2 separate regions of the Homo sapiens genome follow, and region 2 is linked to region 1. Evidence: fine-mapped expression QTL. A gene starts in region 1. The other region holds a variant in brackets. All regions are shown on one strand. Distances are between the middles of the regions.

The links. PIP is the estimated chance that this variant, and not a neighbour inherited with it, causes the effect.
Region 2: its variant is the best candidate, but not a certain one, in a credible set for the expression of DCTN2 in whole blood (TOPMed, PIP 0.53).

The regions. Positions count from the first base shown.
Region 1 is chr12:57,544,722-57,549,104 of GRCh38, reverse strand. DCTN2 (dynactin subunit 2) reads left to right here and starts at 1,913. Exons shown (of 14, transcript NM_001261413.2): 1 at 1,913-2,077; 2 at 3,009-3,077. The coding sequence starts at 2,042. RefSeq lists an enhancer at 1,645-1,784.
Region 2 is chr12:57,475,135-57,479,517 of GRCh38, reverse strand. It overlaps ARHGAP9 (Rho GTPase activating protein 9), which reads left to right. Exons shown (of 18, transcript NM_032496.4): 2 at 94-427; 3 at 761-978; 4 at 1,838-2,059; 5 at 2,249-2,362; 6 at 2,555-2,647; 7 at 2,867-2,928; 8 at 3,064-3,154; 9 at 3,352-3,447; 10 at 3,587-3,685; 11 at 3,903-4,035; 12 at 4,120-4,227. The coding sequence starts at 112. Among named protein-coding and RNA genes, the nearest start is that of ARHGAP9, 2.5 kb to the left of the region's middle. RefSeq lists enhancers at 1,069-1,118, 1,479-1,678, 2,129-2,258, 2,728-3,617. The variant G/A (reference allele first, on the strand shown) is at 1,864.

The DNA.
Region 1 (4,383 bases):
AGAGATTCCTTGTCCTTCCTTCCTTTGGGTCAGACTCCTGCTGCAGCCCCTGGAAAGAACCACCAAGAAGCTGGCCAAATTGATTTTTCTCCATGTCACAGGCCTCTGCTGGCCAACAGAGAGTTGGACTGCAGGAGTTGAGGTTCTAGGCAAAGAGGAAGGGCAGGGTGGATGGGAGAAGGAGGAGGAAAGGAAAGTTCTGCTCAGCAACTGTCTGGTGAGTGGTTAAGGTCACTTAAGACACTATGGGACAAAAGTAAGAGGCTGATAGCCTGGCCAGACAAGACCTAACTATTCAGAACTCAGGGGGTTTCCCACATTGGGGCTACACCTCTAACCTACCTTGAATCTTAAGGGAACTGAAAGAAAAGAGTCCAACATAAGGAATGGGACAGGAAAGCTGTAGGACTATGGAGAAAGGGATAGAGGCTTGGGGAGGAGCCAGGAGAAAGAAAGACAACGAGTTCCGAACTCAGGAACTCTCTAGTCACTTGGTTTGGCACAATTTCTAAGTGTTGCAGCATCCTGCAAGCTCAGGAAACATCCTGGGAAACATCCCATCCTTGGGTCCCCAGGGGCTCCAAGGTGGCATCTTTAGTAAAGGGGTTTCAAAATGCCAGTCCATGGAGGGTCACTGGTCAGAGACAAAAGTTCACTGAGTATGCCCTCACCTCCAAAAGAACAATGGTGAGTTTTTTTTTAATATAAAGATGGATTTGATAAGTTTCAAAGGACTATCTTTTATTCTGAGTGTGTCCTTCTTGCTTTTCTACCAAGTAATGATGGTGACAGTAAATAATAGGTTTTCTATTTGTAATATACTTACTTGATAAAATAAAAAGGCAAATCTTCAAGGTTTGTAGTTGTTTTAATTTTATTGAACGATGAAATTTAAAAGTCTGAGAACGGAAGGTAAGGTTGGTGAATAGGTACAAAAAATTAGAAAGTATAATAAGACCTACTATTTGATGGCACAATAGGGTGACTATAGTCAAGAATAACTCAACTGTACATTTTAAAATAACTTAAAGAGTAATTGGATTATTTGTAACTTAAAGGATAAATGCTTGAGAGGATGGATACCCTCTTCTCCATGATGTGCTTATTTCACATTGCATGCCTGTATCAAAATATCTCATGTGTCCCATAAATACATACACCTACTGTGTACCCACAAAATTGAAAAAATTGAAAAATAAATAAAAGTCTGAGAACTATTAACGAAGTAGTTAAGAGCCCAGAGAGTGTTCAGACAGACATGGAGACACCACTTACCTACTTATGAACTTCAGATAGAATTGCCAGATTTGAAAAACAAAAAACAAAAACAGGATGCCCAGTTAAATGTGAATTTCAGATACTTAATTTTTGGGGGGTTAGTATACCCACACACCACACACCACACACACACACCTACTTATTATCTGAAATTCAAATTATCTGAAAGCCCTTACTTGAGAAGATTGCCTAACTTTTTCATTCCTAACATACACTACGCGTTTACTAAATTTTACTTCTTGTTTTTATTTTGTTTTTATAATACACAGTATCAAGCAAACTTCTTGTTTTTGAAACCCCGGCTGTGTCACAGTATGACTACCTGTATCATTTAATCTAGTCATTTTATTCCTGGGAGCCCCAAACAGGAATTATAAATGTTCTTTCACTGACTTGCTGTAAAAGTGAGAGAAAAGGCTGTATGAAATAGCTCCCCAAGGTTCGTTATTGTCGCTCCCCGCCCAAGCTCCAGTACACCAAAACTACACATCCCACAATCCTAGGCGGCGTCCCCTGGCCATTACCTCATTCCCTGGCCTCGTTCTCCCCAATCCCGGCCTCTCCAGGGGTGTGGCAGCAGGGCTGTTCTCGCGACTTTTGCTTTACCCTTCTGCTGTGCTACTGCTGTCGCGAGACTTCCTGCTCATCTGCCGCTCCCTTTGCCGCCGCCTTAGCCCGGGACCCGAACCCAGCCTCTCCCCTACCCGAACACCGGCCCCGGCTCCACCGAGGCCCGGGTCCCCCAGCCCGTCTCGCCGCCGCCATGGCGGACCCTAAATACGCCGACCTTCCCGGCATTGTGAGTACAGGACCGGCCCCGGCTCCCCAGGACCGCGCCCCCGACCTCCCAAGGACCCCCAGCAGAAACCAGCCCGCGACCCCTCCCGCCTGCAGCCCATCCTCCGCCCAAGGGCTCCCGCCGCTCGTTCTCCGATCGGCCTCAGCACCCCCCGAACTCTTCTGACCCGACTGGGCCGGGCCGCCGGACGGCGCACCAGGCCCCCTTTCCGGCAGTCGCCGGTAGCTCGGCCCAGAAATCGACTCCGGGTACTGACCTCTTGTGCCTGAGTTTTTCCACCATCCGTGTCAACGCCTCCCATGTCCCCCCCAAATCTCTCCATAAGACCCCATCGCTACCCCAGACACACACACCAGACCACTTAACGATGGCCTTCATCCTGCCAAGGAAGAGGTTCTGCCATCTGGCAGAACCCTCTTGTGCCAGATGGGGAGCTCTATCCTTGAGGGAACCTATGCCCTCCCCCAGCCCCCACTCCCATGACAATCCTGGCGTGTACCTTCCTTTTGTGCTGCCCTGCCTGCTTCTCAAGGTGAGGGTTGGGACACAGGACCTTGAGTACTAAGGTCCTGAGTCACTCTCAATCCTTGTGCCAGGGTGGTGGTGTACGGGGCCTAATTGGAGGATAGCCTTCACCTTCTTTGGCAATAGTGATTGCCAAGGACCTGCCCGCCTCTAGATTTAGGGTAACATCGTTGCTATCACTTACACTCACCGTTTACTGTCAGGTCCCAATTGTTTCCGCTGTCATCCCTACCCCTTGAGACATGGGAACTGACATACTGTTGACTCACGGGGCAGGTGGAGGAGAAAGGACAGAACCCTGACATCACACCCCGCCTTCTCTGTTAGCTTATTCAAATGGAGTGGGGGAAGGGGTGTTGTTGGATGCTGGGTAGTGAGGTTGGGTGGTCACTGCTTCTACCTGCAGGCCAGGAATGAGCCAGATGTTTATGAAACTAGCGACCTACCTGAGGATGATCAAGCGGAGTTCGATGCGGTAAGAATGTGTGCTGCCACAGACTCCTCCGGACTCTGACCTTTCTCCCCTAGACAGGTCCTTCCCTTTCTCGGGGGAGCTACAGCAATAAGCGGGTATGCCAACCCCAGCCTGGGTGGTATATAGGTTGCAGGGCTTGCAAAGACCTTGCTGGGCTTGCAGCCACCAATGAGCAATGGCAGGAGGGAGAGTCAAGTCAGCGGAATTACAGCTAACAACATCTGTTTGCAAAGCCCTGATTCTTGGGCCTTTTAAATAAAATTGAAATATCTCAAAACAGGTTTGGAGCTAGTGACTTAGGCCCCTGGGTTCTAACCCATGGAAATGAATCATGAAGCCTGGGCACTTGTAATAAACTGCTACCAAGAACTAGACTTTGAAATATGGAGAAATACTTTTTCCATATGAATATCCAGTATCCATTGGGCAAGGAATTAAGAAAGTGATTCCAAGATTTTAGAGCAAAACAAATTTGAGGAAGAATGTAAATATTTCACATCAGCGGATGTGAGACTGTGGTTGCATTTTTAGATCCGAGAATTCTGAGGATGGAGTAATTAGGTACGGATACATTTTAACTGTGAGGGGAAACATTTAGTATGGTTTATTGAGTGTGTTCATTCTGTGGTTTTTTTTGTGCAATGCAGAGGAAGAAATGTCTCTGCCCCCAATGAGCCCCAGACTAATGGGGAATTAGGATACATATAGGAAACATATAGAAGGAAAAAAAAATTGAGTGAATGGAAATCAACATAGTAAAAACTCTGTTTAAGTGCCAAGAGGTGTGTTTATAGGATGTGTTTTAGGTTCTATTATTTCTGAAGACAGCTGGGCTGGGATCACATTGATGATGTGAGTTCTCAGTAAAGATGTGTCCAAGAGTCATTGCAATATGCAGGCTCAGTATGCTTGTCTGTAAGTCCTGTGGCTATGTCTGTGGGGCTGGTTAATTCTGGGGAATGCTGACTGCTGGCTTACAATGTGTGGCTTGGCGTACTCACTTATTTCTTATTTGACTCCCCCATGTGGAAGTGGTTCTTACATTGTGGGAAACACCTTCTCTGTCCCTTCTCCCAGTGGTGTGTTCCTTGTGGCTTCTGTATTTGCTGGCATGCCAATCTATCCCCTAAGCTTGAGTATCTTGGAGATAATGCAGATGATGTTGTTGCTCAAGGACCTGGGTGTGCACCTGTCACTCCAAGAGGCATCTTATAGGAAGCTGCCTCTGTCCTCACAGAATAGGAGTGTATACAATCGGTTCTCTGTATTTATGGGTTCCAAACCCATGGATTCAACCAATCACAAA
Region 2 (4,383 bases), 70 kb after region 1:
TCCCTGCAACACTGCTCCTAGAACCATGTCTGTCTACCTGGAGACAGCCAGGCCTATTCCCTTCTGGGTCTCCAGTGTCCCTTTTTCTCACAGGTGACAGTGCTGGCTACAATGCTATCCAGCCGGTGGTGGCCAAGTTCCTGGGGGATCCTAGGGCTGGGCCCCCGAAGCCCTCCTCGGGGATCCCAGCTCTGTGCCCTCTATGCCTTTACTTATACTGGGGCAGATGGCCAGCAGGTGTCTCTGGCTGAAGGGGATAGGTTCCTACTGCTTCGAAAGACCAACTCCGACTGGTGGTTGGCAAGACGCCTAGAAGCTCCCTCCACCTCTCGACCCATCTTCGTCCCAGCAGCCTATATGATAGAGGAATCCATCCCTTCCCAGAGTCCAACTACCGTCATCCCCGGCCAATTGCTCTGGACTCCTGGTGAGTAAGCGCTAAGCCCTCTCCCTTCACCTTCCTACCTCCCATCACCTTCCTACCTCCCTGGCTTCTGGGAATTTTGGGGAGGTCCCCCTCCCTCAAGCTTCTGCTAACCATCTTCTCTTGTTTTTCTTTGATCAGCCTACCTCTTGCCCCCGCCATGGCATCCTCATCCCACTGCCTGTCCTCCTAGTCCTAAGGCTTCTAGGTCTCATGCCATTTTCCACATCCTCCCTCTGCCCTTCTTGTCTTCCCTGTGAGTTCCCAAGATGAGGGACCCAGTTACAACAACACCTCTGATCACCTGCCACCCACCCTCCCCTTTTCTGTTTCCAGGGCCGAAGTTGTTTCATGGTTCCCTGGAGGAGTTGTCTCAGGCCCTCCCAAGCAGGGCTCAGGCTAGCTCGGAGCAGCCTCCTCCACTTCCCCGCAAAATGTGTAGGAGCGTCAGCACTGACAATCTGAGCCCCAGCCTTCTGAAGCCTTTCCAGGAAGGACCAAGCGGAAGATCCCTCTCCCAGGAAGACTTGCCGTCAGAAGCCAGTGCCAGCACAGTGAGTCACAGCTCTTCTGAGCTGGGCCCTGTTCTAGGCACAGGACAGACAGCACCTCTGTCTTCAGGGGACTCCCCTGGGGATGACAAACACAAAAACAAATAAATAAGATAACGCTTGGTACTACTGATAAGTCTAAAGGCAAGTTAATGTGGTGGAGAGTGGCTGAGGTGGTGCGGGGAGACATCTGTGAGGTCACGGCATTCAGTTGACTCTGAGCAAGGAGGAGAAAGAGGCAGCCGAGAGGCAAACTGGGTAGGAGGTGAGAAGGGACAGTAGGTACCAAAGGCCCTGAGGGGACAGGGCACAGGGCGCAGTGGAGGCACTGAAAGGCCAGCCCTGTGCTCTTCCTTCCTCCAGACTCCTAGCCCAGGGCAGGGTTTTTCTGTGTTCTGCTTGCCTGATAGGCTACAGCAGGTCTCCTCTAGAGATGTGACTTGCCCAGCCCTTCCCTCTCTTTCTTAACCGTGGGTGGAAAGGGGCTCCTCTTCCCTTCTGTAGACCCTTCTCTGTCTTCTTTTACCTTGCAGGATGTGAGGGTGGGGCACCCCCTTCAACATTCCCCCCACCCCACAAAAAGCCTGTTCCCCTTTCCTGTGGCCCTGAGGTGGGGGTGGGGTGGGGGAGGCGGGAAGTTGGCAACAGGAAGTGAGGAGAAGAGCAAAGAAAACTGTGAGAGAGAGAATTTTTAAAAAGCAGCTGGGGCCTGAGGTTTCTCCCCCAGTACCCTGGGTCACCTCAGCCCAGAGCTGGCGGTGAGAAGACAATGGGGGAGGGAGCAGGAGGTGGGAAGGCCAAGAGAAGCATGGGAAGGGCAACAGGCAGAATGACCACCTCCTTCTTCCCCCTTTTCTGGCAGGCAGGCCCCCAGCCCCTCATGTCAGA[G/A]CCCCCTGTGTACTGTAACCTGGTGGACCTTCGCCGCTGTCCTCGGTCCCCACCCCCAGGCCCTGCATGCCCCCTGCTGCAGAGGCTGGATGCCTGGGAGCAGCACCTGGACCCCAACTCTGGACGCTGCTTCTACATAAATTCACTGACTGGCTGCAAGTCCTGGAAGCCCCCGCGCCGCAGTCGCAGCGAGACGGTGAGACCTTACCTCCTGCTTCTCCACTGTCCCCTCAAGCTCTTCCTTCCCCTGATGAACCTCAAGGTAGTGTGTTTTCTCTCCGGGGCTCTCAGAAGATCAGAAGAATCAGCCAAGTATAAGAAGGGTGTGGAGAGTGGGTAGAGGTGGCATCTGGATGTAGCTTTATTTCCTCCTCCCCTAACCCAGAACCCTGGCTCCATGGAGGGGACACAGACCCTGAAGAGGAACAATGATGTCCTGCAACCTCAGGCAAAGGGCTTCAGATCTGACACAGGGACCCCAGAACCGCTTGACCCACAGGTGAGATCCCTCCCATCTCCCAGTCACATGCAGAAAAAGCCAGCTTGTTATGACTTTCTGTTTTGTGTAAGACATTCTCCATTCCCCACCACACCCCCCACCTCTCACCCGTATCCCACCCCTCTTCCTCCTTCAGCCAGGGATCCCTGAGTCGAGCGTTTCCCCACCTGTTTCTCCAATCCTCTCCCCTAGGGTTCACTCAGCCTCAGCCAACGCACCTCGCAGCTTGACCCTCCAGCCTTGCAGGCCCCTCGACCTCTGCCGCAGCTCCTGGACGACCCCCATGTGAATCTCCCATTTCTTTGTGAAGGCCAAGATCCTCCCTGCCCCCCCTCCCCCCTTTTCCTGCTCCACATAAACATCTTCCTCTTTCTGAATATCCTCCTACCCAGCCCTCCCCCAGCAACTTTAAGGGACTTCACTCCTGGGAGACCCCCTAGGGAAAGCCGTGGCCACTATGGAGGGCGAGGGTGACTTACAGATCCCATTCCCTCCACTTCCCAGGAGGTGGAAAAGTCGGGTCTGCTCAACATGACCAAGATTGCCCAAGGGGGGCGCAAGCTCAGGTGAGAACCCAGAATACAGCTAGGGCCTGGGCTGTCAACTCCATAGGGTAGAGCAGGGTGTTGGAAGAGCACCCTCCTCGTGTCATTCTAGAATGACCTGTTCGCTACCACTACCTCCCCTCTCTGTCCCCGCAGGAAGAACTGGGGCCCGTCTTGGGTGGTGTTAACGGGTAACAGCCTGGTGTTCTACCGAGAGCCACCGCCGACAGCGCCCTCCTCAGGCTGGGTGAGTGTGAGCGAGAGGCGCAGGATGGGTGCGGGCGCTGCCTACCGCCTCACGCCAATGTGGGGGCGGCAGCGGGGAGGGCGGTGCAGAGGAAAGTAAAGAAGTGAGGAAGCCTCCCACCTCCTCACAGCCCACCGGGGAGAGGGAAGCAGTGAAGGAAACAACACCGTGGCCTCAGTTTCCTCCCTCATTGTCAGGGACCAGCGGGTAGCCGGCCCGAAAGTAGCGTGGACCTGCGCGGGGCGGCCCTGGCGCACGGCCGCCACCTGTCCAGCCGCCGCAACGTCCTGCACGTGAGCGCCCTCCCGCGCGTCCCCAAGGCCCCACCCGACCCGAGGGCGCCCCCAATCTCCCGCGCAGGCCTCCCGCTAGGTCTCCCTGCTTATTATACTCCTTCCCGTTGACCCGAGCGTTTCCTTGCCTGGCCCTCAGATCCGCACGATCCCTGGCCACGAGTTCCTGCTGCAGTCGGACCACGAGACAGAGCTGCGAGCCTGGCACCGCGCGCTGCGGACTGTCATCGAGCGGCTGGTTAGATGGGTGGAGGCCCGGAGGGAGGCTCCGACCGGCCGGGACCAAGGGAGTGGGGTAGGAACGATAGGAGTCAGGAGCAGTTGGGGGCAGGGTGGGCTCAGTGGAGAGCCCTTGCCTGGGCCGGGATGTGGGACCCCGGCAGTGGGTCAGAGTCCAGCTAGGGATACAGATTTCTCTCCTCTCTCACCTTCGACACGGCCCGCCCCGGGTCTAGGATCGGGAGAACCCCCTGGAGCTGCGTCTGTCGGGCTCTGGACCCGCGGAGCTGAGCGCCGGGGAGGACGAAGAAGAGGAGTCGGAGCTGGTGTCCAAGCCGCTGCTGCGCCTCAGCAGCCGCCGGAGCTCCAGTGAGGCGCGGGCTGGGGAGGGAGAGTCCGGGAGCGCAGCGAGGCTCCCGGGCGCTCACGCCCCGCTCTACCTGCCTCCTGCAGTTCGGGGGCCCGAAGGCACCGAGCAGAACCGCGTGCGCAACAAACTAAAGCGGCTCATCGCGAAGAGACCGCCCTTACAAAGCCTGCAGGAGCGGGGTCTGCTCCGAGGTGAGGGGGCTGGGCCAGGTTCATGGATAAGAAAACTCCAGCGAGGCTCAGAGTAGAGCTTCCCAGAACTAGACCACAACCTTCTGTGACTGCTGCTTTCCCACTACCCCAGATTGTTTAGGGGAGAAGCTGGGGTGACCTGTACCCCTTTGCCAG